Regions from separate parts of the Homo sapiens genome. Here all the other regions are linked to region 2. Evidence: fine-mapped expression QTL. A gene starts in region 2. Each other region holds a variant in brackets. All regions are shown on one strand. Distances are from middle to middle. Region 1 overlaps HELZ (helicase with zinc finger). Region 2 holds the start of HELZ (helicase with zinc finger). Region 3 overlaps HELZ (helicase with zinc finger).

Region 1 (10,367 bases), 150 kb after region 2:
ATTTCTTGTTCTGTGTGTTGGTTTTTCAACAGAGACACTTTGAGCCATCTATTTTCATTTTTTCTTTCAAACAACTCTTGTTTTAAATTAGTTGATAATTTTAATTTCAACATACTGTTGTCTAATCATCGTGACTCCCCCAATTTCTCTTTTTTAGAGGAAAGTATTGTACAGATGTATCTTGAAGATTATAATCTTGGTTGATTATTGCCTATTCTCACTTTAGGAATAGATGGTGATAGCTTATGACTTGTGTTGTATAACGAGGTAGAAATATTGCTGTCTTCTCTGACATAGCTTCTCAAAGAGATCATTAATGTATGATATCTAATAAACCATCTAATGCATGTAACAGTGATCAGCAAATTAATAAATTAGACCTCTATTCATGCTTAAATTATCAAAGCTAATCATTTAAATGAGATGTTCTATTTTAATTAAAATTTCTGGCACCATCGTTAATGAGACTTAGAATTTCAACTAGTGTATTTAGCTCTTACTTGGTGATTAGCTTTGATGGCATAATTATAAATAGAGCCCTTATTAATTAAGTTGCTGACCTTTCCCCAGTTATCTATTTATATACACACAGGTGAAATGGCTTGATAACGTCATATATTAGAGGTATATCTTATAAGACAGTGGTAAGCAAATTAGGAGTTTTTACTCAAACTAAAACTATCTTTAACAGTAAAAATTTATACATGAGTTTTGTAGTTTAGTTTTTTCCTTCTTTCTTAGATTTCCTGTATTAAATGGCTTTTGAAATGTTAGCATTACATTTTAATATTTGGAAAGAAATATTAGCAGAATTTGAAAATCGTGATTATATGTGTAGTACCATAATCTCACAGTAAAACATGAAGCATATTTATAAACACACAATCATATATGGAGTTGATACTGAACTTCACAGAATCTCTTTAAGAATCTCTCTGGCAGGGTAAATGAGCCTTTAAACAACATTAATGAAATTATTTAAGACCTGAGGACTCTAAAATTAAACCTGAGCATCAGTCATTGGTAGGGTTGCCATCCGAAAATAAAGGAACAATCTGATTGGCTGAAGATGTATGTAGAAGGAATACTCACTTCCCGAAACAGAACTGGGCGAAAGCAATAGGAAACAAAGTCAAGAAATAAGAAAAGAAAATAAAAGATAAGAATAGAAACAAGAATAAATAAGAAATGAGAACAGAAAGGAAGGAAAGTATGTTTAAACAGCCTAGGGGCCCACAAAGCTACAGTGTTGATAGAGATGTAAAGGGATTTCTCTGTCAGAAATATTTTTCTTTTGTAGGCTACAGATGTTTTTCTAAAATTTTGGTTTGGGGGCCTTTACTGTATAGGAAGTACCCTCTGGCAGAGGAAAAAAGGACATTTTAAACTTGTTGCCCAGAATCCATTTCATTGCAGTCAGTTAGCATGTCCTATAGTTTTCTGGATTTAAATCACATAAATAGGCTTGGATTTGTCATCACACTTGGAATATTTTAGCGAGTCTATCAAATTGTTGATGGTTGTTAAAGATGATAGATGTTGTTTGGACATTTTTATTTTTACTTTTTGAGATGGAGTCTCGCTCTGTCACCCAGGCCGGAGTGCAGTGGTGCAGTCTCGGCTCACTGCAACCTCCGCCTGCCAGGTTCAAGCAATTCTCCTGTGTCAGCCTCCCAAGTAGCTGGGATTACAGGCACCCACCACCATGCCCAGCTAATTTTTCTTTTTTTTTTTTTTTTAGTAGAGACGGGATTTCACCACGTTGGCCAGGCTGGTCTCAAACTCCTGACCTGAGGTGATCCGCCCACCTTGGCTTCCCAAAGGGCTGGGATTACAGGCGTGAGCCACCACGCCTGGCTTTGTTTGGACATTTTTAATTAAAAGTTAAAATATATTCTTATTGAAAAAGACTTTGATTTATCAAAGACTTTAAATCTTGTAACTTTGGAACTAGTCAGGCCTTAAAGATCATTTAACTCCCCCCTTTTAAAAGGAAACCGAGGCACAAAGATATTAAAGGACTTGTAACTTAAGCAGTTATTAACTCAAGGGAGTGGAGACTCCTGACAGTCCCATGCTGTTTCTGAAGCATCACACTGCTCTTCAGATCTCTATTCCATGAGTAAGGTTTATTCTTAGAAAATGAGAAATGATTGCAATTACACAGAACTAGATGTGGGGGAAAAGCAAAATTATGTTCTTGTGAAGAATTCAATCTTCAGTTGTGTAAAATTTGCCTTTTATTTTTTCTGGGTGGTGGGGAGAAAGGGAGCTAGTTCATTTTAGAATTCTTGATTTCTTGAATTGTATCCAGTTGTAGCTGCTAAATGTTTGACTGCTCAAATGATTAATTTAGAGATCTCAAATATCAGAAATGTACTTAATTTCTCCACATTCTTTAAGAATAAAACACATTCTCCAGCATTACATTTTTTCCAAAAGCTGGAAAATTTATTTAGTTTTAATAATTATGAATCTTCAGAGAAAATTCAAATAGTTGTGGGTCAAAGAGTAAACTTTTACTGCAAACTATTTTATTTCCTATCCACCCCAACATTTGCTCATTGTAAGAGCTGTTGTGCTCTATAATTGTTAATTCACTGTTTCATATTCAAGAACAGTAAACAAGAGTCAGATAGATTCAAGGTAGCTCCAAATGTCACAGCAGTGAACCTGACGTTTTTCTCTGAGATGTAATATTGTATTCGTTCTGGTATCCCTTCTATGACCTTGTATATGGATGTATAGGAAAATAATATTGCTTGGTAGGAAAATACTATTTGTAAATTATAAGTGCCCTTGCCTCTGAGATGCTTCAAATGGCATTTTTTAAAATTTAGACCCAAATTGATTTTGATGCACTGTGTTGCAAAGTCACATTTATTTCAGTATATGGGCATGCCTTGTTTTATTGTACTTTGCTTTATTGCATTTCACAGATATTATAGTTTTTACAAATTGAAGGTTTATGGTAACCCCATGTTGAGCAAGTCTATAAGCGCCATTTTTCTGACAGCACGTGCTCACTTTGTGCCTCTGTATCACATTTTGACAATTCTCACAGTATTTTAAACTTTTTCATTATTTCTTTATCTGTTGTGATCAATAATCTTTGATGTTGCTATTGTGATTGTTTTTGAGCAATCAGTGTTATGTGTATTCTGACTGCTCCATTGACTTGCTGTTCCCCCATCACTTAGTCTCCTTGGGTCTCCCTATTCCCTGAGACACAACAGTATTGAAATCAGGCCAGTTAACAATGCTACCATGGCCTCTATTTAAGTAAAAGGACAAGTTGCATGCCTCTCACTTTAAATCAAAAACTAGAAATGGTTAAGCTTAGTGAAAATGGCATGTCAAAAGCTAAGACTGGCCAAAAACTAGGCCTCTTATAACAGTTAGCCAAGCTGGGAATGCAAAGGAAAAGTTCTTGAAGGAAATTAAAAGTGCTACTTCAGTGAATATACAGATGATAAGAATGTAATGAAACAGCCTTATGGCTGATGTGGAGAAAGTTTGAGTGATGTGGAGAAAGTTTGAGTGATCTGGTTAGAAGATCAAACCAGCCACAACATTCCCTTAAGCCAAAGCGTAATCCAGAGCAAGACCCTCACTCTCTTCAATTCTGTGAAGGCTGGAGATAGATGAAGAAGCTGGAGAAGAAAAGTTGGAAGCTAGCAGAGGTTGGTTCATGAGGTTTAAGGAAAGAAGCCATCCCCATAACATAAAAGTGCAAGGTGAAACAGCAAGTGCTAATATAGAAGCTGCAGCAAGTTACCCAGAAGATCTAGCTAAGATCATTGATGAAGATGGCTACACCAAACTACAGATTTTCTGTGTAGACAAAACAGCCTCTTATTGGAAGAAGATGCTGTCTAGGACTTTCTCAGGTAGAGAGGAAGAAGTCAATACCTGGCTTCAAAGCTTCGAGGAACAGGCTGACTGTCTTGTTAGGAACTAATGCAGCTGGTGAACTTTAAGTTGAAACCAGTGCTTGTTTACCATTCCAAAAATCCTAAGGCTTTGAAGAATGATGCTGAATCCATGCTGCCTGTGCTCTATAAATGGAACAATAAAGCCTGGATGACAGCATATCCATTTACAGCATGGTTTAACCCATGTTTTAAACCCACTATTGAGACCTACTGCTTTGCTGGTGGGCGGGGGAGGGGGGGTGGGATTTTTTAAAAAGATTCCTTTCAAAATATTACTGCTCATTGACAATGCAGTTGGTCATCCAAGAACTCTGATGGAGCTGTGCAAGGACATGAATGTTGTTTTCATGCCTGCTAACACATCCATTCTGCAGCCCATGGATCAATGAGTCATTCTGACTTTCAAGTCTTATTTAAGAAATACATTTTGTAAGGCTATAGCTGCCACAGACAGTGATTCCTCTGATGGATCTGGACAAAGTAAATTAAAAACCTTCTGGAAAGGATTCACCATTCTAGATGCCATTAATGATTCTCTGGCTAAAAAATTTAAGAACAAAAAATATATACTGTATTGCTAAAAAACGCTTTCTTGTTGTGATTGTTGGGAAGAGGTCAAAATATCAATATGAACGGGAGTTTGGAAGAAGTTGATTCCATCACCATGGATGCCTTTGAGGGGTTCAAGAAGTCAGTGGAGGAAGTAACTTGCAGATGTGGTGGAAATAGCAAGAGAACTAGAATTAGAAGTGGAGCCTGATATGACTAACTTGCTGTAATCTTATGATTGAACTTGGGTAGATGAGGAATTTCTTCCCTTTTGTTTTGAAGAGAAGGGTCTTGCTTC[G/A]TCACCCAGGTTGGAGTGCAGTGGTGCAATCATGACTCACTGCAGCCTTGACCTCCTGGACCCTGGCAATCCTCCCACCTCAGCCTCCTCAGTATCTGGGGCTACAGGCACATACCACCATGCCTGGCTAATTTTTTTGTTTTGTTTTGTTTTTGGTGTTTGTTTGTTTGTATCTCACTATGTTACCCAGGCTGGACTTGAACTCCTGGCCTCAAGTGATCCTCCCACCTTGGCCTCCCAAAGTTTTGGGATTACAGGCGTGAACCACTGAGCCCAGTGAGAAATTTCTTGTTATGGGTGAACAAAGAAAGTGTTTTTTTGTGATGGAATCTACTCCTGGGAAGATGCTGTGAACATTGTTGAAATGACAACAAAGGAGTTCAAAGGATTTAGAATATTCCATAAATTTAGTTGATAAAATACTGGAAGGGCTTAAGAAGATTGACTCCCATTTTGAAAGAAGTTCTGTGAGTAAAATACCATCAAACAACTTTGTGTGCTATAAGGAAATCTTTTGTGAAAAGAAGAGTCAACTGATGCGGCAAACTTTATTATTGTCTTATTTTAAGAAATTGCCACAGCCACCTCAGCCTTCAGCAACCACCACCCTGGTCAGTGAGCATTTTTTAGCAATACAGTATGTATTTTTTGTGATTAAGTTTTTTAGCCAGAGAATCACAAGCAATACATTATTTTAAAATTAAGCCATATACATTTTAAAAAATGTCTTAAAGAGTGTCTCACTATGTTGCACAGGCTGGAATGCAGTGGCTATTCATGGGTGTGATCATAACTCACTTAAGCCTCAAACTCATGGGCTCAAATGATCCTCCCTCTTCAGCCTCCCAAGTAGCTGGGCCTACAGGCATGTGACACCATGCTTGCCTTTATACATTGTGTTTTTTTAAACATACAATGCTATTGCACACTTAATAGATTATAGTATAGTATAAATATAATTTTTATATGCACTGGAAAACCAAAAAATTTACGTGACTCACATTATTGCAGTATTAGCTGTATTGCAGTAGTTTGGAACCAAACCTGCAATATCTCCAAGGTGTGTCTGTATCTCTCTGTCTCTCTCACCAAACCTGCAATATCTCCAAGGTATGTCTGTATCTCTCTCTCTCTCTCTCTCACCAAACCTGCAATATCTCCAAGGTATGCCTGTATCTCTCTCTCTCTCTCTCTCTTTTTTTTTTTTCAAGACCAGGTCTCCCTCTGTCACCCAGGCGCAAGGTGCAGTATATGATCTCAGCTCACTGCAACCTCTGCCTTCCAGGCTCAAGCGATCATCCCACCTCAGCCCCCTAAGTAGCTGGGACTACAGATGCATGCCACCACACCCAGCTAAATTTTGTATTTTTTGGTGGAGATGGGGTTTTCCTGTGTCACCCAGCTGGTCTTGAACTCTTGAACTTAAGCACTCTGCCCACCTCGGCCTCCAAAAGTGCTGGGACTACATGCTGTTTCCAGCTTTTATCTTAGGTTCAGTGGAGTATGCGTGCAGGTTTGTTATATGGGTAAATTACATGTTGCGGGAGTTTGGTCTGTATCTTTTAAGGGAAACAACAAAACCTAGAAATAAATCTACTATAGTTTTGGGAACTAAGATAAATTTTTGCTTCTGTCATTATGATTGAGTTTTATAAGGCTAAAATGACATTAAAATTACTTTAGAAATTGTATGAAAATAATGCAATTTATTTGTTTAGAGTTTTAAAAATAATATAAATAGTGAAGGATGTCATAGTTATCTAGGCAAGAGGTGATTGTGGCTTGGACTGTGGGGTAGCAGTGGAAATGGTAAGAAATAAATTCAGGATCTACTTTGCAGGTAGAACCTAGAGGAATTCTTGATGGATAGGTTATGATTAGGAATGAAATAAGATTTAAAATTGAGTTCCTCAGTCCTAGTAGGCTCATTTTGACTGACCAGGAGCTCCCATGGCAAGGCGCTGCCTTATGGAACAGTACAGACACAGAACATTCCCATCGTCACAGGAAATAGTTTTTGGACAGCATTGCTTTAGAGAAGGACTCATATCCTTCAACTGTGTGAAATTGTCTATTATTATTAATCTTTTTTGATAATTTTCTAGCATTATTTTTCTCCATGTCTCACTTTCTGAAACTTCTTTTGATAAGATGTTGGGCCTCCTAGATTCTCCAAATCTTTATTTCCTGTCATACTTTGATACCTTTGTACTTTTTCTTACTTTCAGGAAGATTTCCTTGATTTTATCTGCAAGAACTATTGCATTTAATATTTGAGCCCTCAGGTTTTAAACTCACAAGAGTTCTTTATTCTGAGCTTTTTCCTTTTTCATAACATCTTGTTTTCTGCAGTGCCTTTTCTGAGAACACCAGTTAGAGGGTTTGTTGTTGTTTTGTTTTTGATTTTTAATAAGAACTAAAACAATGTTCTAAAATATTTTTAAAACATCACTATTGTTTCTTTCCGGGCCTCCCTTTTTTCAACTTGTTCATCTGGGACTATCTTTTATGCTGGAGACCTTCCTTAAAAGTCTGGTAATCCTTGATTATCTTTTTTTTTATGAGACAGAGTTTTGCTCTGTCACCCAGGTGGGAGTGCAGTGGCACAATCTTGGCTCACTGCAACTTCCCCCCCCCGCCGGTTTCAAGCAGTTCTCTTGCCTCAGCCTCTCAAGTAGCTGGGATTACAGTCACCCGCCACCACTCCCGGCTAATTCTTATATTTTTAGTAGAGATGGGGTTTCACCATGTTGGCCAGCCGGTCTCAAACTCCTGACCTCAGGTGATCCACCCACCTCGGCCTCCCAAAGTGCTGGGATTACAGGCGTGAACCACTGCGCCTGGCCGCTTGATTATCTTTCACTAAAAAGCAACTTGGGAGTTTTGTGTATATCACAGGATGTATTGCCTGGCAGGCCTTTCACTGGGGACTTTTTAGTGCTTGAATCCATGTGGAGCCCTTCGTTTTTCCCGGATTTTTGCTTGTCTGTCTCCTTATCTTTTTGTCTGTATTGTAGGTACCTGGCTGGCTGTGTCCCACTGTTGTTGCGGGGAGGAGTATGAGTCCAGCTGTTTCCTGTATAGACTTTCATTTAACCCCCCTAATTTTATCCCTTCATCTTCCTTTCATTTTATATTAGTTGGCAAGCCTCTGTGGAATTCTGCTAGGTGAATCGTTTCCCTTCTTGGGGGGTAGCTATAATTTCATTCTTCTTCCACAGACACCATTCCTCCATCCAGTCTCCATGTATTCTGGAAATGTGTCCTCTATTGATGACGAGGCTCATGGTCTTGATTGTTGTATATCTATAATATTCATTTATTATTATTTTAGTGGAGTCTTGGGCCAGTTGCCACCATTAACTGGGAATCATGCTTTTAAAAAATGATTTTGTAATTTATCAAGTGCTTTTCAATAGATTACATCACATGAACCCATAGATATGAACCCACAGATATTACTGTTGTAAACTACAGTTTATTCATCACACGTTATCTGGCTTGTTAATAAATTGATTATTTTTAGTCTTATAGTGATAGTCCTCTCCTTGCTCCATCTAGTTTTTTCTCTCTAGGGAACTGTACTGATCCACCAAACTGTAGCGTATTTGCTTTAAGCAGAAAATGATAATTTGAGGGGGAGCTAAATTGAAATAAGTTAGTAGACCCTAAGTGTTCTATAATCAAGGATTTCTTCCTCAAATCTTGGGGAAATTAAATAGATTAGTTTTAAGTAAATGAAGAAAAAAAATGCAGCTTATTAAATCTGATATTATAAGAGTGTCCATGACATGGAAAGATACCTATGATATTTCAGTGAAAAATTACCAGGCAGTATGTAATGTCTCATTTTAAATTATATGTTTAAAGATGTACATAATATCCAGTTTTCCCACTTTAGCTATGTTAAGTTGATCAGTATGTTTCAGTGATCAGATGATGTCATTCTGATCTATTGACGTTAAAATTTCTAGCAACCTTTCAGATTTTAGCAGCTGTTGATGGTTGTTGCTTAGATCTATTGTTTCATTAGAATGGCAAAATGATTATTTAAAACTTCTTTGAATTTCTTTTGTATTTATTTTTCTTTTATAAAGGAGAACTTTTCCTCATTGAATATTTAATTACTACCTAAAATATAGTCTATGTAGAAAGGGAAGGATAAATGTTTAATCCTTGCCCTTTATTAGTCAATTTTCAGAGTAATGAATTGAGGCCTTAGCAGGCCTCAGGATGACCATTGAGGCTTTTTTCCCCTTCTTTTTTCACTTTGAATATTATTATTTGATATCATTATGTATTTGAATTTTTACTTTATTGTAGTCCTTATACATTTTCACACCTTGTCCCCTATCTTTGACCAATGGAAGGTTCTTCATTAGAAATATTAGAAATGTTTTACATTGAGTGAAAATGGAAATATAGCCTGTCCTAATTTGTGTAATGCAGCTCAAGCCATGTCAGAGGGAAATTTATAGCTTATATTAGAATTTAAATTTATAGCTTGTATTAGAATTTAATAAAAGCTTTATTAGAAAAGAAGTAAGATCTCAGATCAATAATCAAAACTTATACCCCAAGAAATTAGAAAAGGAAGAGCAAAATAAATTCAAATCAAGCAGAGGGAAGGGAATTTCAAAGATGAGAACAGAATTCAATACAATTCAAAACAGAAAAGCAATAAAGGAAAATCAATAAAACCCAGTTAGTTGTTCGGAAAGATTAGTAAAATTGATAAACCTTTAGCAAGATTGACAAAGACAAAAAGAGGATACAAACTACCTATATTAGGAAGGAGACTGGGTCACTACAGACCCAGTAGACATTGAAAGGATGGTAATAAGGGAGCACTACAAACAACTCTGTGCACATACATTCAGCAACATAGATAAAATGAACCACTTCCTTAAAACCTCACCAAAGATGAAATAGATGGCATATGGACAGTCTTATAACTGTTAAAGAAATTGAATTTGTAATTAAAACCTTCCAAAAAAGACATCTCTAGGCCCAAATGGTTTTAGCATGGAATTCCTCCAAAAATGTGAAGAAGAAAACCACCAACTTACACAATCTTTTCCAGAGAATAGAACACTTCTCAATTTATTGTATATGGCCAGCATTACTCTGATACCAAAACTAGATAAAGGCAATACAAACAGAGAAAATCACAGATCCACTTCCATGAATATCAATGTAAGCATCCTCAGCAAGACATTAGCCATTTGAATTTAGCAATATATGAAAAGAATATACTATGATCATGGGGGGCTTATCTCTAGAATGCAAGGCTGGTGTGGTATTTGAAAATAAATTAATGTAATACACCATTCTAACAATCTAAAGAGAAAAATCACACAATCATATCAATAGACATAGAAACCACATGCATTTGACAAAATGCATGGTCCACTCAGGATGAAACTCTTGGTAAACTAGAAATGGAAAGGAACTTCTTCACCCTGTTAAAGGGCATCTATAACAATTCTGCAGCTACCATCATACTTAATGGTGAGAGATTTAGTGCTTCTAAGATTAGGAATAAGGCAAGACATTTGTTCTCAACATTCCTCTTCAACACTGTG
Region 2 (10,367 bases):
TCTCCTGCCTCAGCCTCCCGAGTAGCTGGGATCAGATGACAGGCATGAGCCACCATGCACAGCTAAATTTTGTATTTTTTGTAGAGATAGGGTTTGCCATGTTGGCCAGGATGGTCCCGAACTCCTGGTCTCAAGTGATCGAACTCCTGGCCTCGGCCTCTCAAAGTGCTGAGATTACAGGCGTGAGCCACCGTGGGCAGTCCATTATAATTATTTCTCTTTTTTTTTTTGAGATGAAGTCTCACTCTTGTCACCCAGGCTAGAGTGCAGTGGCACGATCTCAACTCACTGCAACCTCTGCCTCCCAGGTTCTAGCGTTTCTCCTGCCCTGGCCTCTGGAGTAGCTGGGATTACAGGCGCCCACCACCACGCCCAGCTAATTTTTGTACTAAGGCAAATGACCAGGGAGTGTAGTTGTAGAAGAGAAACCCAAGGACTGAGACTTGGGACTCTCCAAGCAGAAAATGAAGGCACTGCGGCCGGGCACAGTGGCTCACACCTGTAATCCCAGCACTTTGAGAAGCCGAGGCGGGTGGGTCACTTCAGGCTAGGAGTTCGAGACCAGCCTAGTTAACATGGTGAAACCCTGTCTCTACTAAAAATACAAAAATTACCTGGGCGTGGTGGTGTGTGCCTGTGGTGCCAGCATTCGGGAGGCTGAGGCAGGAGAATCGCTTGAACCCAGGAGGTGGAGGTTGCAGTGAGCCAAGATCGCGCCACTGCACTCCGGCCTGGGTGACAGAGAAAGACACTGTTTCAAAAAAAAAAAAAAAAAAGAAAAGAAAAGAAGCCACGGCCAGTGGGAGCAGAGGAGAAAGAAAAAATGTGGGAAGGAAGAGGGATGTGATGTCGGGGGGATCAGTTAGTTAGGGCTGTGTGTGTTCATGAGATCAGAATCAGAATTGAGCTAAATCAGTGGTGGCCAAGGGACCTGTTTTCCCTCAACACTGTTCCTTTCTGCCTGCCTCTAGCTGTGTGTGGTCAGTGGTCTGAAGAGATGCGAGGCAGGGCCCTCAGCATCTCACTTCACACTTTAGCACTCCTTTTCATCAACACGCCCATCCCTGAGAGAAGTTTGGTCATGTACTCGACTAATACTTGGTGAGCGTCTATGTATGTGCCAGGCCCTGGTCTAGTCACTGAGGCAAATAAGCCAGACAGAGCCTGTGCCCAGAGGGAGCATATGATCAAATGGGGGCGGGGCAGATAAGAAACAACTAACAACAGGCAAACAAGAGAACTTTTTTTTTGAGATGGAATTCTCACTCTGTCACCCAGGCTGGAGGGCAGTGGCACGATCTTGGCTCACTGCAACCTTGGCCCCCCAGGTTCAAGCAATTCTCCTGCCTCAGCCTCCCGAGTAGCTGGGATTACAGGCGCGCTGTAATTTTTGTACCTTTAGTAGAGACAGGGTTTCACCATCTTGGCCAGGCTGGTCTTGAACTCCTGACCTTGTGATCCACCCACCTTGGCCTCCCAAAGTGCTGGGATTACAGGCATGAGCCACAGCGTCCGACCTAAACAAGAGAACTTCTAACACAGGTCAAGTGTTCAGAGTGACTTGGTCTGGGTAGGGGGATCACAAAAGTCCTCTTTGAGGGGACCTAAATATGATGAAAAGATGATGGGTCGGGCGTGGTGGCTCACGCCTGTAATCCCAGCACTTTGGGAGGCCAAGGCGCATGGATCACGAGGTCAGTAGTTCAAGATCACCCTGGCCAAGATGGTGAAACCCTGTCTCTACTAAAAATACAAAAATGAGCCGGGCGCGGTGGCGGACGCCTGTAATCCCAGCTACTCAGGAGGTTGAGGCAGAGAACAGCTTGAACCTAGAAGGCGGAGGTTGCAGTGAATTGAGATCGCGCTACTGCACTCTAGCCTGGTCGACAGAACAAGACTCTGTCAAAGAAAAGATAATCAGAAGATCTGGGGGAATAGGGTTCTCACTGGAAGGAAGCTTGGGGCGCTGCAGGGAAAGAGAGAAGGCCAGCCTGGACCACTGCTGGTGAGGGAAGGTGGGACCACCTCACACAGGAGCTTGTAGGCCAGGGTTGGGAATCTGGGTTTTATTCCAAGGTTTCAGCAGAGAAGTCTCGATCTGATTTACATTCATAAAATATCACAGGGTTGGTCAGGTGGAGGATGCATTGTAGGTATCCAGGAGGGGCAGGGAGAAGAGTCGGCAGGCCGTCCCAGCTCAGGCAACAGGCGGTGTATTTGACAAGGTTGGGCTTGGATGCACACACTGGAGGCAGTGAATGGGTTGGGCAGTCACACAAACTGAACACTTATTTGGGTCAATGCCTATACAAGGCAAAGAAAGGCTGCTTATCAAAGAAACGTGTTTGGGAGACACAGTCCTTGCCCTCAACTTATTTCCTGTTTACTTATATTAGGTGGGTGCAAAAGTCACTGCGGCTTTTGTCATTACTTTTGCATAAACTCAGACCACATACCTAAAGGTGCCATGCAAACAAAACCACCATTAAGCCAGTGCATACCAGTGGCTAAATAAGTGCAAAAGAGGAATTGGAAAAGAAGCACCTGGGGTACCCTGGAAAGAGACATTGGAGCCTTCTTCAGACGGGCCAAGCATTCCCTTTTCCAGCAGGAGGGGCGCTGCCTCCCCCCAGCCTAGCCCATGCCCTTGGTGGCTACCTTGCTGGGCCGTCTAAGAACCTGGCTCCAGGCTCCAGTTTCTCCACTTATTCCGAGGTGAGAAGCAGGTGACTCAGGGGAGGTTGCTCCCCAGCACGCTGCGTTCTTGGCTGGGAATGACTCACTACCTCGTTCCCTCCTTCACGAGTGACCCGGGGCCAATCCCTTAATGTGTCTACACCTTCTCATCAGACCGGGACAATTGCCTGGTGGAGTTTTTGGCTCCCCAGGGGCAGGGCTCCTGTCTGCCACCGTTCACGTTCCTAGTGAGGCTGTTGATAGGGTCTGGAGGAGCGTAAAATCCTCGGGTAGATCCAAGGCCCCAGGCCCTCCCCGTGCACCGAAAGAGGGTTTTAATGCCAGTGCTTCTGCGGTCTTCTAAAGGTAGAGCCGTTCAACAGCATTTTGTACCGAATACAATTCGCAAGCATTCCTGTCTTGGAGAATTTTCTTTTGGGTATCTCCTTGTTGTAAAAACTTGCTTGGAAAAAAAAAAAAGCAACTGGAGCAGGCCTCCAAAGACAGCAAAGCAGGGACCAGAGGCTCTGCGGAGAGCGCGGGAGGAGGCTGACCAAGGGGCCTCCGTTGCTGGGGGGACCTGGGCGGCTGGACGCCGGGGTCAGTACGCTGCTCGCCCCGCGCAGCCGAAAGCGGGCGTGGTGTCGCGGGGAGAGGATGCCCGGCAGCAGTGTGGCCGGCGGGCTGGGGGTACTCGCCCGGGTCAGAGACCTCAGCCCGCGCCAAGGCGCCCCACACTTTCCAGCGCAGCGGGTCGCAGCCCGGAGACGCCGGGCGTCCCCACCTCCAGCCTCCCGAGCTGCAGCGGCGCCCGCGGTTCTCCCCCGACCCGCCAGGTGGACCCGGACTGGCGCACCCTGCTTTCCGCCCGGGACCCTCCCCCGAGCCCTGGCTGCCTCCGCGCCCCGCCCCGCCCGGAGCCCGCAGCCGGCGCCCCGGATTACCTGCCCCGGAGTCACAGTCCGCAGCCCGGACGCTCCCAGGGTGGCTCCGCGGAGCCTGGAGCCACATTCCTAGGGGAGGGGTCCCCACCTAGAGGGTCGCGGATCACGTTACCCGCCCGGAGGAGGAGACCGCGGGACACAGAGTAAACAAGGGGTAAAAAGTTGCATTTGGCTCAATTTTTTTTTTTAAATCGTGCTTCGACGCTGGTGGACTCGGGGACACGGCGTCCTCCCAGTTCCCGGAGCCCAACGGCCCCGGGGCGGTTTCCCAGGGCAGAGGCACCTCTCCGGGCGGCGGGTGCGGAGCTGGTCTGCGCGGCCTCTGAAGGCGACCCCGGCCGCTCGCGGGCTTCCTGGAAGCGCGGCCGCAGGAGCAGAAACGCTCACATCCACGCGCACAAATAAATCCGCGAGCAGCTCCGCGCCGCGCCGCGGGCGGCAAGGAAACCTCGGGTTGATTCAATGCAGACGCGGGGCGTCTGCCCGGGCAGGAACGCGGCGAGGCGAGAGGACCGGGCGTGGGGGCAGGGAGGCCGGGGCAGGAGAAAGGGAGAAAACCCCAAAGCCACGTTTTAAAAATGCGGGTGAATTTTCAATGCCGTCAGCCCGGGGGAGGGGAAGGGGCCAGCTGCGGGCGCCGGGGTCGGCAGTCCACCCGGGGCAACTTTCCGGGCGGGAGGCGCGGCCGGAGGGGGCGGCGCCGGCGGCGGGAGGCGGGAGTCGGGGGCCGGGGGGAGTCACTTTAAAGGCTCTTTCTTACCCATAATGCTTTGTGGGGACGTTGACAAGTGGATCCAAGATGGCGTAGAAAGTAATGACAGGTAAGTCCTGACTTCCCCCTTCTCTGCTCCTGGGGCCGCTCCGCGAGCTCCCGGAGCTCTCCGGGGAGGGGACCCGACTCCCCTCCGGTGTCCCGGACCCCGGGCGCGGCGGCCCCGGGGCAGGCTGGGGGCCTGGGCGGCCCGCGGCTGGGCCTGGGAAGCGCGGCTCTTCGAGGCGAGGCCCGGACGCTGGGGCTGTTTACAGCTTCTTCCCCTACTTAGTCCCCTTCCCCTCCGCTGGGGCCCGCAGCGTCCTGGGCCCTGGCAGGAGAGGGGGCCTTGCACGCCTGGCCCGGGAGCCTGCGGGAGGTTTCTCCGGCCCAGAGCACTCTGGGAGGGGGACTCGAGCCTCCCGGCACGTTCCCCTCCTCCGGGTCGCGGCTGGGGGTGGGGAGCGTGCGGGCCTCCCACGCCCCGCTCGATGCCCCCCCTCAGGCCTCGGACTTCCACCGGGTGGGGTGGGGGCTGGAGCGGGGGCGTGGGGAAAAGTGGGTCAGGCGTGCGCCCCCTCCCTCCCCCGCGGAGGGCTCTCGGCCCGAGATTCACTTTCTTCCCCCCTTTCCCCGCCCCCTCCTCGGAAATGCTCTTTGGCCCACAAGCACATCAACAAAAATAAAGATAGGCTCTCTTTTCCTGGAGATTCCTTGAGAGTACTCCAGTACCCTTTTCAAGGGCTCACAGACTGCAGTCTTACCTAGGGAACTTCGATTCCTCTCCCCTAAATTATTGGAGCCTTCTGCACCCTCGCCTTTGCTGAGAAATCTTCAGACAGGGCTGGAAGCCAGGGTCCTCTGATTGTTCTTGGATCGGGATCCTCAGGTTTTGTTTGCAGTTCAAAAATTGTCATTCCTTCTCCCTCACAACTTAACACTTCTCAGGCAAATCATTAATATAATAAAAAGTGTAACTTCAGAGACAGTGGATTCCTGGAGCGGGGGAAGGAGGGAGGAGTTGTCTGTCTTGCCTAGTTTGTTCTTAATTTTGCTCTCTCTTAAACTCATATTAATGAAATTTCCTCTCCTTCATTTCTTTATGTTTTTGAAAGTAAGGTCAGTCTGTGTTGAAAAAGATGATTTTATTATGTTTTTGAGTTTTAAGAGCATTGTATAATCTATTCTTTTACCTTACTGAAAGGAAATGTTTTAAGGTCAAAAACCAGACTCATTTGCAAAGCTGCACACTGTACCATTTTTGTAACTTTTTCCATTTTAAATGTAGATGCCCTTTCACTTCAGGCTGATAAAATGTTTGCTACTGATAATGTCTGTTACTGGTGTTGTATGGAAACATCTTTTCTATTTGCCTCAGGATTTGGATGAAGTAATGGATCACTAATGAACTACAGTGCTGGTGAGATGTGTAAGGTGAGACTGCAGTTAAAAATGATTTCCTTTTTTTCCTTCTTTATTTTAATCAACTGGTAAGAGTAAGGCTGAAACTGAGTAATTTGATGGGGCCATCTTTGTTTTCCAAATGTATCACTCAGTCAGTGGGTCTATGGGCAGGGCTAGATTTAGAAAGGAAAAATATGTTGAATGTACCAATCTTTTCAGTTGCTCCAACATACTCAAACATAGTGGTACTTAACTAAGAGCCAAATGTTACTTGCAGCTATTCTTGATCAGTATCTTCACCAGGGATAATTATAGTTTGCCTATTCAAATTTTCTTGCGTAACTTTACTTGGATGTCTTAATTTTATTTGTGTTTTGGTGTCTATCACCTACTGTACGTTTAGTCCCGGTGATTATGTATATGGATTTTGTGTGTACCTGGTTTGTGGGACTCGTAAAGTATACCCTTTCCGTTAGAAAGAATTAGGCAGGTCAATCACTCCTGCTTTTATTTTCTGAAAAATGGAGTAGTACTTTTCTCTTTAATAATTATTTTGAAATAAAGATGATAGTGTTGAGATCTGTTTAGCTTATTAGGAAATAGACTAGTTTGTCATTATGTCCTGATCACACACGGTGTGTGAATTTATTCAAAGTGCTTTATTTAATCTAATTTGTAATGCTTTGGATTTAAAGGATATTATTGATACAGTGTTAGTGAATAGTTTTCTGTGCTATAGAGAGGAAGAGAAGTTTGCTACTTTTACATTTTTCACGAGTTTTCTCAACTTAAAATGTTTTACTAAGTTTTTTTTTAGAAAAATAATAAGTAATTGTGGTCGATTGGTTACTGTAGTTTTTTTTTTGTTGTTTCTCCACACATCTGGGCCTCTGGATTTTGAAATCCTCTCACAAATTTTTCGTGTCTATCACAACATCTGTTTAAGAAGAATAAGCTATCCTTTTTTTTTTTTCTAGATTGAGGCATGTAATTGACATTTTGCCTTAAAAAAATAAAAACTTAGGAAAGGAAGGTGGACATAAACCAAGATTCTTTTGTAAGTGCACATACTGCATTTTCTTGTGTTTGAAACTCAGCAGTGCTTATGTTTATTTCATATAATTTTTATTTTTGGCAGAGCAAATATGGATTTTTAAATTTATTTTTATTTTGCAGATGGAGGCATATTCCTGCCTTAGACCTCCCAATTTGAACTTTATATATGTGTGTATATATACATATATGTGTGTATATATACATATATGTGTGTATATATACATATATGTGTGTATATATACATATATGTGTGTATAGATATGTGTGTATATATGTATATATGTGTATATATGTGTGTATCTATGTATATAGATAGATAGATTTTTTTTCTTTTTTTTTTTTTTTGAGACAGAGTTTCACTCTTGTTGCCCAGGCTGGAGTGCAATGACGCGATCTCAGCTCACTGCAACCTCTACCTTCCAGGTTCAAGCAATTCTCCTGCCTCAGCTTCCCGAGTAGGGATTACAGGCTTACGCCACCACACCCGGCTAATTTTGTATTTTTAGTAGAGAGAGGGTTTCACCATGTTGGTCAGGCTGGTCTCGAGCTCCTGACCTCAGGTGATCTGCCCGCCTTGGCCTCCCAAAGTGCTGGGATTACAAGCGTGAGCCACCATGCCTGGCCTTATCTTTTTTCTTGAAGCCTACAGATAATTTTGTGGAAAGGAGCCAGTGGTCTGCTTTTTGACTGTGGAGATGTTTGTTTGTAGTCTAAAATGGAATACTTAGAAGTAGGTAATCTTGTGTGGCTAGTGTTGTTTGACCTGAATTGTGTCAAGACATTTTCCACAGTTCTCACACATGTAGACTCTGTGAAGTGTTAGTATTCATTTCAAAGCGAAGTTAGTGGTTGGCCACTGAACAACTTGTTACACAAAGTATTCTAAAATGGGAAATGCCATAGTATTGAAGGTTGTGGTGAGGTAGAAGTCTGTGTCTCTGAGCTGAATAAAGACAGAGCTTTTTTAGTCTGTCCTTTTGGCTGGGAAGCTAGGACACTATTTTTAGGTAAGGCTGTAGTTTTTGGGAGTAAGTACCTTTCTATTAGCTGGTAAACTTGATTATTGCATTTGTTAACAAGAAGTTTTATTTTCTAATGCCATAGATATTAAAATGCATTGTCTTAAAGTTGGTATATATTTATAGACTGTCCAGTTTTCACTGGAAGAGGAGTGATGCCAAAACAACAGGAAAAGTCATTTTTACTTGCAAAGGGCCTCGTGTAATTAAAAAATCTACAGCATATTCATGAAAGGCTAAGAATAGTGCAGAGGGACCTACAAGTAAGTAGCCCAGATCTTACAGATGCATGTGTTCTCTATTTAAGCAGTAGGCTTGGCATTAATATTGAATGTAGATTAGTCTATAATTGTCTGTCAGAGACCCTAAGATCCAAATACAGGCCCCATACAAGAAATAAGGACCTTTGCCTGTTGTTTCAAATGTATAGAAGATTTCGGGCCAGGTGTATCAACAACAGTTATCCAAGAGATGGGGAGGAACTACTTAAAAAATTATAAGCAAATTTTTAGGTTTAATTTTCATAAACTTAGGTGAATATACATGCAGATGTAATTGGATTTCTAAGTAATGTTTTGAAATGTTTTCTAGAAGAAAAGTGATACAAGTGGAGAGTATGCCATACTATCTTACCATTCATTTCAGTTGATGAGTGCAGTCAGGGTTACTTCTGTAGCATTGGCTAGAAGCAGCATATAACATGATGGTTTATTGCTTTGAGGGTGGCTGGGATAATAGTTTTCAGTAATCTTGAATCTGTTAGAAGTGAATATTCCTCTTTTTAAAAGACCACTGTAGATGTAACAGGAAGAATTTTATTTATATATACATGTAATAACTATTTTGGTCAACTTTTAATTATTCAAAAGAAATGGAAAGTTTTTCAACTAATACCAACAGTCATACCAACTTGTTTACTTTTGTGAATTGTACTGGGTCAGTTTCTCCAAGTAAGAGCAGGAAGTTGTTTGGTAAAGCAGAGTGTATACATATATCTTGTCTTTGAACAAAAAAGAACTTGATTCATCGTCAGGTTCTTCAAAGAATGCATGGCATCTTTGTTGACTGAACTATTCTGAAGTGTGAATGTTTGTGATTTTTGTCATTTCTGTGCTATATTTTAGGTGTTCTTGTCACATCTGAATTTGCCTTTTTGCTTCCTTCTGCAGAAATTATCTTTGTTGTGATGAAAATGTCCTATAATGCGAGCTTCCTGTCAGTAGGCAACGTGTTTAACTAATACAGTTTTAAAAAATTATTTACTTTTATGCAAAACTCCTGTATGCTTATGGTAAACAAATTTGAGCAGTACTTATGTAAAGTAAAAAAGGTTAAAAAAAAGAAAAGCCTCTGTTCTTCTTCTGTCTCTAGTCCTGCTCCCTTGAGCTGAATCTGGCAAACAGCTGGGTGTCATTTAGCTTTTGGAAGACCTCTCTATTCCTGAGATATTCTGGCAGTGTGGAAGTAGAGTGAGAAGTCAGAAAAGGCATGGTCATTGAACCAGAGTTTGGATGTTGTGCAGGGACTATTCTGTTCTTATTTTCTGTGATAAGTAATAATGATAAACTACCATCAGCTTAAGATAACTGTAATTTGAATTGTGAAACATGAAAACAGTTAGTTCTTTAGTCAGGTTGGTAAAGTTTTGATTTGTTGATCTTTTAAAAGAAATATGCATGAATTGAATTCATGTAATGTTAGGGCTGGTGGGGGTTAATGGTAGTAATGAATTACCATCTGTTGAATTTTAGGATAAGCTGCACAGTATATTTACTATAGGCTTTTTATAACTCATCATCTCCTTTAATTCTCATAGCAACTCACGAGATAGTTATTTCCATTTTACAAAGGAAGAAATTCAGGCTTAAGTGTGACTCAACTAATGTAACGTCACGAGACCAGTAAAGTAGTGGAGCTGGTGTTCTTCCTGGAAAGCCTGTGCTCTTCTTTCTCTAGCTAGTCTAAGTGACTTATTTTCCAGATAAGGAAATATAGGCCTGAAGAAATTAAATGAGTTGCTCAAGGTCACACAGCTCAGTAGTAGCAACATTAAACCAAGCTTGTTTTTAATCTTTGGAGGCTTATCTCAAGACTCTTGGTCTAGTGCTGGTCATGCTACATTTTATTGAACTAGTGTGGACCAAAAGACCATATGCTGGGAATATTGGATACAAATGCTTTGGAACTGATATCTTGGTGAATGGTGTTTTCTACTATGTATTAAAAAAACTTTCTTCTTTGTCTTTCAGAAATTATAAAGAGCTCTGATGGGCTATTTGGGTGATACCCAGTGCAGTGAACTGCAGGTGAGTAAGGTTTAGAACTTTATTTAGAAAACAAGAATTTTATAATGCCTGAAAGAATAAGGTGGGACAAGGGTGAAGTGATACAGGGCTGTAGTGAAACAGTGGTAACCTGAAGGCACAGATCCTAACGGAATCGGTTACTTCTGGAACAGACTGAATGATGAACAAGCTCCGAAGAGACTGCCTGCTGCCTTGTCAGGTTAGTGTGTGA
Region 3 (10,367 bases), 41 kb after region 2:
CTCCATCATCGTGAAGATCTCCCTTGTGCTGCCTCCTACCTTTTACAATTTTTTTTTACAATTTTTTTTGAAAAACTTCTTTTTTTGTTGTTTCTTTCTCAGGAAATGTACTATTCCTTTAGAGTCACACTCAACCACCCTTCCTTACTACCTTTTCTAACCCTTGGCAACCACTAATCTGTTCTTCATCTCCCTAATTTTGCCACTTTGAGAGTGTTATAGAAATGGAATCATATAGCATATGACCTTTTCAGATGGCTTTTTTCCACTCACCATGGTCCTCTTGAGATCCATCCATGCTGTTTTTTGTTTTTGTTTTGAGACAGGGTCTTGCTCTGTCGCCCAGACTGGAGTGCAGTGGAGTGATCTCAGCTCACTGCAACTTCAGCCTCCTGGGTACAAGCAGTCAGCCTCCCAAGAAGCTAGTATTATGGGTATGCGCCGCCATGCCTGGCTAATTTTTGTATTTTTAGTAGAGATGGGGTTTTGCCATGTTGGCCAGGCTGGTCTCGAACTCCTGGACTCAGGTGATCCACCTGCCTCAGGCTCCCAAAGTGCTGGGATTATAGGCTCGGCCTTTATTTTCATTTTAAATTCAGTTTCTGAATTGTTAGTTCTGAGAGCATGATTATATCTAAGCAGTGAGTGATTTTATATCATTACTGACTAAAGGATTTAGTTTGTATGGTAATGAAAAAAATTTTTAGGAAAGTTTTTGGAAAAAATACCTTCATTAGGCTAAGCTCTTTAATAAAACACTTCAGAAGTAACTAAGGATTTGATAAAAGAAATAACCTAGGCTGGGTGTAGTGGCTCACACCTGTAATCCCAGCTCTTGGGGAGACTGAGGTGAGTGGATCACCTGAGGTCAGGAGTTCGAGACCAGCCTAGCCAACATGGTGAAGACCTGTCTCTACTAAAAATGCAAAAATCAGCCAGGTGTGGTAGCACGTGCATGTAATACCAGCTACTGGTGAGGCTGAGGCAGGAGAGTCGCTTGAACTGAGGAGGCGGTGGTTGCAGTGAGCCTAATCATGCCACTGCACTCCAGCCTGGGCAACAAAGCGAGACTCCATCTCAAAAAAAAAAAAAAAAAAAAAAAAAAAGGCCGGGCGTGGTGGCTCATGCCTGTAATCCCAGCACTTTGGGAGGCAGAGGCGGGCGGATCACTTGAGGTCAGGAGTTCGAGACCAACCTGACCAACATGGAGAACCGCCGTCTCTACTAAAAATACAAAATTAACCATGGGTGGTGGCGCATGCCTGTAATCCCAGCTACTTGGGAGGCTGAGGTAGGATAGTCGCTTGAACCTGGGAGGCAGAGGTTGCAGTCCGCTGATATCATACCACTGCACTCCAGCCTGGGCAACAAGAGCGAAACTCTGTCTCAAAAAAAACCCAAAAAAACAAAAAACAAAAAAACCCGGCATAGTGGCTCACGCCTGTAATCCCAGCTCTTTGGGAGGCTGAGGCGGGTGGATCACCTGAGGTCGGGAGTTCAAGACCAGCCTGACCAACATGGAGAAAGCCCGTCTCTACTAAAAATACAAAATTAGCCGAGTATGGTGGCGCATGCCTGTAATCCCAGCTACTCGGGAGGCTGGAGGCAGGAGAATTGCCTGAACCTGGGCGGCAGAGGTTGTGGTGAGCCAAGATCGCGCCATTCCACTCCAGCCTGGGCAACAAGAGTGAAACTCCGTCTTAAAAAAAAAAAAAAAAAGTCCTAATATGGTCATATTACTGAAAACAGTAGAGAATATGTACTCAACATTTACTATAAGCTTGTTTTAAGATTACTTTCCTTATATTAGGTAATTCTTTACAAGCAAAGGGAATTGCATTTTAATTGTTAATCCTTGCCTTGTGATAGCCAGAGGCTATGGAACCCCAGCAAAGATGTATTTTGCTAAAACAGTTGAATGAATATTACTCCTTTAAGTCTACTCAGTTTCTAATCCAAAACATTCTAAGTAAGACATATTTCAAGTGTTAGAAAATATCACAAAAAAGATACACAGCGAGCTGACAGAAGTCCTCCTTTGTAACTCCTAGTGAACAGAAAGGAACAATTCAGTTTGAGAACAGTTGTGTGCGCACAGTACACTCTCACACATAGTTGATGGGAAGAGAATTTATCTGCAAGGAGCTGTAACTTTTTTATAATTGTTCAAGATTGTATTATTAATGTCATGTCTTTTGGCAAGTTCAGTTTTTATAGCCGAGACAAGTTTAATAATACAGTAGGCCATACTTTTTTTCCCCCAAGCTTTTTCAAGGTAATAAGGAACTAGATTGGCAGCATTGCAATTTAATTTTGTTATACGATACAGTAGCAGGAGAGGTTTTTATCTATAGTTATTGACTATTTCTATGCCATAGTTTTTTATATGGGATCCTCCCATACATAAATTGAATTTCATTTAAGGGGAACAGGAAGAAAGTATGTCAGTACTGCTTCTTGTCTGAAAAAGAGATGGAAAAAAGGGAAACATAAATTTGACAAATATTAAGATATTCATACAGCAATGTAGTGGAAGAAACTTGCAAAATGAAATTCAGCAAATACCTCATACAAAACCAAAGATCTATGAAACCTGTTTGTAAAATGTTATGTGATTTAATACTCTTTAAGTATGACATCATCATATGAAGTTGAAATACTCTTAGACTTTTTCATTCCTGCAAACATTTTTCAGCTCTTGACAACTAGTTTCTTAATATCCCAGTTACTAAAAATGAACTAAGATATTTCCTCAGCAGTGCTCAGTACTGCTGTAAAATTTTTAGAAGGGGAAGGTAATATGTAGGGAATTCTTACTTATGCAGGAGACTGCTAGTTACTTTTCTAATTAGCATAATTAATCTTTACCACAACCTTATGAAGTAGCTACTGTCACCTCCGTTTGATAGGGGAGGAAATAGGCTTAGCGATGTAACTAATCCATACCTTAGTAGGAGTGTCATTTTTCTTCAGAGCAATTTTTTTTTTTTTTTGAGACAGTTTCGCTCTTGTCCCCCAGGCTGGAGTGCAGTGGTACGATCTTGGCTCACTGCAACCTTTGTCTCCTGGGTTCAAGCGGTTCTCCTGCCTCAGCCTCCCGAGTAGCTGGGATTACAGGTGCCTGCCACCATGCCCGCTAATTTTTGTATTTTTAGTAGAGACGGGGTTTCACCATGTTGGCCAGGCTTGTCTTGAACTCCTGACCTCAGGTGATCTGCCCGCCTCGGCCTCCCAAAATGCTGGGATTACAGGCATGAGCCACCATGCCTGGCGAGAGCATTTTACTTGTATTGTTTCATTTAATCTTTAATGGCAAATTTATACGTGTTTCTGTTTTACAGATGGCCACACTGAGGGTCAGAGAGATAAGTAACTTGCCCAAGGTCAGATTTGAAGAGTTTTAGGAATAGTAAGATCTGAGGGAGATGAATACTTACCTTGGAACTTTATAAGACACTCAAGACATTCTTAATGATACCTTATTGGAGTTTTTCACTTGATAACTCCTTATTGGAGTTTCACTAGATAACAGAATTATCTAGTGACTGTTGAATAGATGAGTGATCTGTAATATGGATGGATTGAAACAATAGATTCGTCCAAACTAAAAATAATTGAATAAAACCCTGTCAAATACAGAGAGACTGCAACTTTCAATTTAGTAAATTCAATAAAAGGTATATGTAAAGATTTTTATTATGGCATTATTTTTAATAGTTAATAATTGGAATTATTATCTTATAAGGGAAGGGTTAAATAAGTTGATGTATCTACTTGGTAGAACATTATATAGCCAATAATAAGATAAATATAAGCACTCTGATCACATGGAAAATACTGAATGTGCTGAGGGCAAAAAAGAATACAAACTGTCATGTTGGCATCAGTTACAATCATTGTAAAAATGTTGTGAACATTGATCAGAATTGGAGGAGAAAATGAGTAAGTGAAAACTTCGTTGAGTAGTGAGATTATGATGAACTCTTATGTAGAATTTTATTAGTTTTATAATGTTTGTGTAATAATAGGAGAAGATATATTCATAACAAAAATATGAACAGATCCAGTGGACTTTATATATATGGTATGTTATACTAAAAAGAAACATTTCCTTGGAAATAATTTTAAAAATAATTTCTAAAATATTTTAGCAAATTATTGCAAAGGAAGCTAAAGTATGTACAAACTAATAATAGAACCTTGGACTTAGCAATGCAGAGGATATAGATTGCTCTACTAATTGAACCATTAGCAGTTGCTGTGAGAAATCATCTCAAATGACATGGCATAAAAATGAGTATATTCTGTTTTGTTAGAAACATGATCCTCATGATTGTATTAGATTAAATCTGCAAACCCTTGCAAACAATTTGGGTAGCATTTTCTGTGGCCACTGGGCAATTGGATTCTTAGTAAATCTTGTTGGATTTGATAAAGACTAATTCTTAATTGCTTAGGAATATCTAGGTGAGATTTGTAGTTTCTGTTCTTACTCATTTTAATGGCACCCAGTCTTATGTCACTGTAAAAAACATGAGAACTTTATTCAGCTAAGTCTGCAATTTAAAAGCCCTCATTTACCCAGAATTCGTAGGTTGAACAGTATTTTTCCCTCGAGAGCTTAAGGATTGATTCTTCCTGTGATTTTGATCTCAACTGGTTGTAAGTTCGGTATGTTTATTGCCGCATGTTTTTTCTTGTTCTTATATGCCTGTTTTGGACAGAACAGAAACACCACTGCTTCCCTCTAGAGTATTTGAAGTTACTCTTTTAGCATATAAAAAGCCACGCTTGTGATAGTGTGTTAATACTATAATCAAGAAAAATGTGCATTAAATGTCATATGGTTAATGATGGCTGTTCTTTCATGGCAGTGCTGGGAGAAGGACTGGCCAAGGGAGAAGATGCCTTTCGGGCAGTGCTTTGCTGCATGCAGCTGAAAGGGAAGCTCCAACCTGTATCCACCATTCTTGCCAAGTCACTCACAGGAGAGTCCCTGGTATGTTGATAAGCTCTAATTTTGTATGCCTGAAAACAAATTTTTATTTGATTCCTTAGGTATATTGTGGGGAAAAAAAAGTGTATCTTTTTTTCTTTTAGTTCTTCCTCTATTAGAAAGCAAAATTCATGAGTATCCTGAGATATAGTACCCATTTTTCTTTTCTTTCTTTTCTTTTTTTGTTTTTTTCTTTTTTTTGAGACAAGGTGTCAGTCTGTTGTCTAGGCTGAGTAAAGTGGTGTGATCACTGCACACTGCAGCTTCAACCTCCTGGGCTCAAGCGATCCTCCTGCCTCAGCCTCCTGAGTAGCTGGGACTACAGATGCGCACTACCATCCCTGCTAATTTTTGACTTTTTGTAGAGACGAGGTCTCATTATGTTGCCCAGGCTGGTCTTGAACTCCTGGGCTCAAAAAATCCTCCCTCCTTGGCCTCCCAAAGTGCTGGGATTATAGGTGTGAGCCCCTGCTCTTTTTTCGAGACCAAAATGATATTTAATTATTAATTCTTGTAGTTTGTGATTATATATAAGAATTGTAGATACTTTAAAATAATTTAGGTTAACTAAGTGATTTTCTTTGAAGATATGATTTAACAGAGCCTGAGTTTTAAAATGCTGATGTGGACATATGATCTCATAGGGTTCTTAAATTCAACAATTTATTTCATAAAATGTTTAAATCTATCTAAACTAATAAGTGCTTCTGTTTCTGTT[T/C]GTATGTGTGTAAGTAATATCCATAACCACTCTGATGGAACTAGCTAACTCTATTCAGACTTTACAATCAATTTTGTAAATATAGCATTTGATTTTTTTAAGTTACGGAGTCTTGCTGAATTGCTGAGGCTGGAGTGCAGTGGCTATTCACAGGGGGTTATCATAGTGCGCTACAGCTTTGAACTCTTGGGCTCAAGTGATCCTGTTTCAACCTCCTCAGTAGCTAGGGCAATAGGCATGTGCCACTGTGCTCAGAAGTATATTTAATTTTTTGGCTTTTTTTGGTTGAGATAATTGAAAGGCTACTTTTTGAAACTTTGGATTTGATAATCTATAGAAAGTGGAAGAAAAGAGCTATAACCTTTTTTTTTTTAAACCAGTTCGTAACTTAAGAAATTTGTTGATAATTTTCAAGAATCATAATGAAACACAGTGAAAGCAAGAAAGTATATGTATACTTTGCTCTGCTGTGTGAATTCCCTGTATCTTTCCTATTCTTCTGAATTGATATAGATGATAAAATTATGGGGCAGATTTGTGCTTTTACTCCAAATATTAAATAATTATATTTGGTTAAAAAAAAAGAAGTTAGGGAAGTACTTGGTATATTGTTGAGTGTAATGTATTGGCCCATCTCGGGATAGTTATTTTCTAAGGAATTATTGTGCAGTGAATTGTTTAATTATGTTTAAGTTTAGCAGTGTCTTTTGATTTCACCAGATTCATAAATGAACTTAAAAGCTAAAATGTATTAGCATAGAAAAATTATATAGCTATTTAGTTCTAAGTAGATAATAAAGGAATATATCTCTTCTTTGTTATTAAGATTATCATTAAAGGGCTTTTCTGTATAAGTTAAGTATATTACAGTTTTACCTGTTGTTTTTAAATTTAAAACGAGTAAAGAGTAATTTGCTTTTAAATCTCAAATGAAATTTAGATTTCAGAAGAGTGATATTTTCCTTTTATTAAAGAGCCATTTTTAAAGTGGTGTGATCAGCTTATATGAATCTTCCTGAATCATGGCTGGGTTCACCATTTTGTACATACAAACTTATTAATCTTAGGAAAAGGGTTAAAAACAGCAATAGGTTGTTTTCCTTTTCATTTATGCTGTCTTGTTCTGTGGTGGTACCTGTTGTTAATATTTTCTTGAGTTAATTTTAATTAATGTAAGGTGAATACAGTGGTTTTACTTACCAGAAAAGGCATTCTGTATAGTTTTTCCTGTTAACCTTTTAAATTTTCCTCATAGATGTGTTGCTTTATTGTCATCGTTAATGGTAGTAGTGATGAGGGATGAGGATAACATTGTTTTTTACAAATAAACTCAGAAACAACAGAGGAATTGAGCTAAGTTGCCATAGTAAAGAATTAATATACTAATTGGTTCTTCTCTTTTTTATTCACCCTTTCAGAATGGGATGGTAACAAAGGATTTGACAAGACTAAAAACACTTCTCTCAGAAACAGAGGTAAGGCCATTTCAGTGGATCCGTTTGGAAGAGTTTGACTCAATCTGTCTAGTAAGCATTATGTATTAAAATTTGGAAAACCATTGTGGCATCAGCCAGAAGGCGAGGCTGTGAAGGTGGGGCAGTGGGACTGCCAGCCTTCCCTCGTAACCCCCATAACCCACAGTCCCATCGTGGGAATGCTGCTTCTCCACATGTCTCCTCTGTGTGCCAGGGCTTATCTTCTGTCCCTAGTGGACAGAACTGGTATCTTATTAGCTGTCTCTGGACAACAAATGGGAAGATGATTGGGAAATTTTAGTTTTTAACTACTTCTGGCTACTAGAAAATGAAATGCTATCATTAAAAATGAGATATCCTCAAGCCTTATTTATTTATTATTTGTTTATTTGAGACAGGGTCTCGCTCTGTTACCCAGGTTGGAGTGCAGTGGTGTGATCACAGCTCACTGCAACCTCGACCTCCCTTGGCTCAGGTGATCCTCCCACCTCAGCCTCCTGAGTAGCTGGAACTACAGGCACACTCCACCGTCTGGCTAATTTTTTTATTTTTAATTTTTGGTAGAGATGGAGTTTTGCCATGTTGCCCAGGCTGGTCTCCTGGGCTCAAGTGATCCGTCTGCCTCTGCCTCCCAAAGTGCTGGGATTACAGGCATGAGCTACCACACCAGGCCTTCTTTTTGTCTTTTTTAAAGCACCTGATGGAAGTCTGTGATTTAAGGACTGTCTTTAAGGAATGTGTTTAGGAGATGGAAATAATGTGTATGAGGATAAATAGTGAACAAAAAAGTACTCCAGTGAAGGACTTGGAGGACACATGGAAGGTCAGGGACAACAGTGGCATGTAAAAGGCCCTGAGGTTTGTAAGTCTCAAATTTTTCTTCTTCATATAGGCATATAAAAGTATTTTTATTTTTAGATGTCCTATTTAAAAAATAGCCATTTTGTCAGCTTTTGTCATAAAAGCCCATGTACAGTGATTAATTGGCTTATTTATTCAAAAATTGCCTATGTGCTAGGTACTATGCTTGTTGCTGGGGATACAGCACTGAACATGGTTCTTGTCCTCTTGGAGGTTAAAGTTTTAGGAAGGAGATAGACAACAAGTAAATAAATTGAACAACTGTAAGTGTAATTCACAGAGAGGTAGGTGATATGAGGGAAAAGAATGAACTCTTCTGCTGGAAAAATCACTGGATTTGGTGGCCAAGGACTGAGACAGTTAAACCAAGAGCTGAGAGTTGAGAAGGTGCTTGTCTCACGGAGAGTGAGATGGAGGGCGCTTCAGACAGACAGAGGGGATGTGCAGAGACCCTGGTGTCAACTTTGAACTCCTGTGGGTTCCTTTCCATTCCAAATGTAGTAATGTATCCCAGTTCATACCAAAAAACAGCAAAGAAGGTGGTCACCATGGATTATACAAGCTGGAAAAAATAACTGTTTTGCTACTATTAGGCTTTTTCTTCTAAATTTCATTTTCTTTGTCTTATGTTGCCTGATTGTGAATCAACCGAGAATCAGTAAGCTCTCACTAACTTCAAAGCCATGTGTATATATAGGTATTAGGTTGGTACAAAAGTAATTGGGGTTTTTGCCTTTGAAAGTAATGGCAAAACAGTCCCGGTGCGGTGCTTCACGCCTATAATCCCAGCACTTTGGGAGGCCAAGGCGGGCAGATCACCTGAGGTCGGGAGTTTGAGACCAGCCTGACCAATATGTTGAAACCCTGTGTCTACTAAAAATACAAAAATTAGTCAGGCATGGTGGCAGGAGCCTGTAATCCCAGCTACTCAGGAGGCTGAGACAGGAGAATGGCTTGAACCCAGGAGGCGGAAGTTGCAGTGAGCTGAGATTGCACCACTGTATTCCAGCCTGGGCGACAGAGTGAGACTCTGTCTCAAAAAAAAAAAAAAAAAAAAGTAATGGCAAAATCGCAATTACTTTTGCACCAACCTAATAGTGTATATGTAGCCGTTTTAATTTCTAAGAAGTAACAGAAGGCAGTTGTAGATGTTTTAGACTTTTAAAATGACAGCATAAAATGACCTTTCATTTTGTTAAGATTTTTGGCTTTGTTCTTCTTTTATTGCCTTAATTGAATTACCAACTTTACATCTGATAATCACATGCAATTTATTTTATTTTTAATGTTTATAATCCTGTTGCATGTAAGGCCACATATATCACTTGACTCTTATTTTGTGACTATACTTTTGGAAGAAGTGACTTAAGTTTTTGTAATTTTTTTCTATCTAACTAGAGTAGTAGTCTTTTTGGTTAGTGAATTGATATTATTAAAAGATAACCGTTTAGGAAAAGCTAACAAACAGTGCTACCCTTATTTATTATTGCACATGACACATTTAAAAATGGCAACAATTTGTTATTTAAAAATTGGGCTAAGCTGGTATTTAACTTGTAAATGCTAATGGATGAGAATAAAGACCTGGAACTCAAGACTGATTTATGAAAACAAAAACAAGTATTCTTTAGTAAATATTCTTTAGTAACATTTAAAATATCTGATTAATAGATTTGATTCTGAATTTATAGTTCTAGCAGTGTAATCTTTGGCCATTTTTCCTGAAGGTGTCGGTAAAGACTAATGATGATAAACTGTTGCCTTTTTGTTTTGGAGTATAAGTGCATAAAAAGAGTGTTTAAAAAACAAACACAACACTTTGGAACCTAAAAGCCAGGACTGCTAAATACTTAGCCAGGCTGAGTGCCTTACTTTACCAGTTCTCTGCTGAGCATGTGCTGCTCCCCAGATCCCCAGGAGACCTAGAGCTCAGTGTCAGCACAGGCCCGTGCGGGTCGTCACTGATTCTTACAGGTGCTGACTGCTGAAATGCACTGTGTGGTGTTCTCTCCAACATTTATAAGTGTTTTAGGCTTTATTTTATGACCAAAACATTTTAATAATGTTTATCAAACATTTTTATTCCCATTATTTTTCTTGCACATTTGATAAATTTATTTTGATAGGTTTTAAAAAGGAGATACTTTAAAATTTTCCTACTTGCAGTTAATTTTTAGCCTATCTATTTATATATGTTATGTAAATAGAATCATTTGAAGGGCTAGTTTGTGACAGTGGCACATAGACCTTGCTTGAAGAATTTAAAGAGATCTTTTAATGGCTTTTTTTTAATTTTTTTTGCAGCGTAGAATGCTAA

The links. PIP is the estimated chance that this variant, and not a neighbour inherited with it, causes the effect. A credible set is the group of variants that fine-mapping cannot tell apart.
Region 1: its variant is the best candidate, but not a certain one, in a credible set for the expression of HELZ in whole blood (TOPMed, PIP 0.64).
Region 3: its variant is the best candidate, but not a certain one, in a credible set for the expression of HELZ in whole blood (INTERVAL, PIP 0.87).

Annotation. Positions count from the first base shown.
Region 1 is chr17:67,089,945-67,100,311 of GRCh38, reverse strand. All of the region lies in intron 31 of HELZ (helicase with zinc finger), which reads left to right. Among named protein-coding and RNA genes, the nearest start is that of CACNG1, 51 kb to the right of the region's middle. The variant G/A (reference allele first, on the strand shown) is at 4,783.
Region 2 is chr17:67,239,222-67,249,588 of GRCh38, reverse strand. It overlaps HELZ (helicase with zinc finger), which reads left to right and starts at 4,393. Exons shown (of 33, transcript NM_014877.4): 1 at 4,393-4,441; 2 at 5,750-5,805; 3 at 10,100-10,156. It overlaps HELZ-AS1 (HELZ antisense RNA 1), which reads right to left and starts at 4,813. Exons shown (of 4, transcript NR_136398.1): 1 at 4,381-4,813. RefSeq lists silencers at 3,376-3,575, 3,586-3,675, 4,226-4,715, 4,816-4,865 and enhancers at 3,195-4,181, 4,182-5,169.
Region 3 is chr17:67,197,951-67,208,317 of GRCh38, reverse strand. It overlaps HELZ (helicase with zinc finger), which reads left to right. Exons shown (of 33, transcript NM_014877.4): 6 at 4,875-4,999; 7 at 7,133-7,189. Among named protein-coding and RNA genes, the nearest start is that of HELZ-AS1, 42 kb to the left of the region's middle. The variant T/C (reference allele first, on the strand shown) is at 5,715.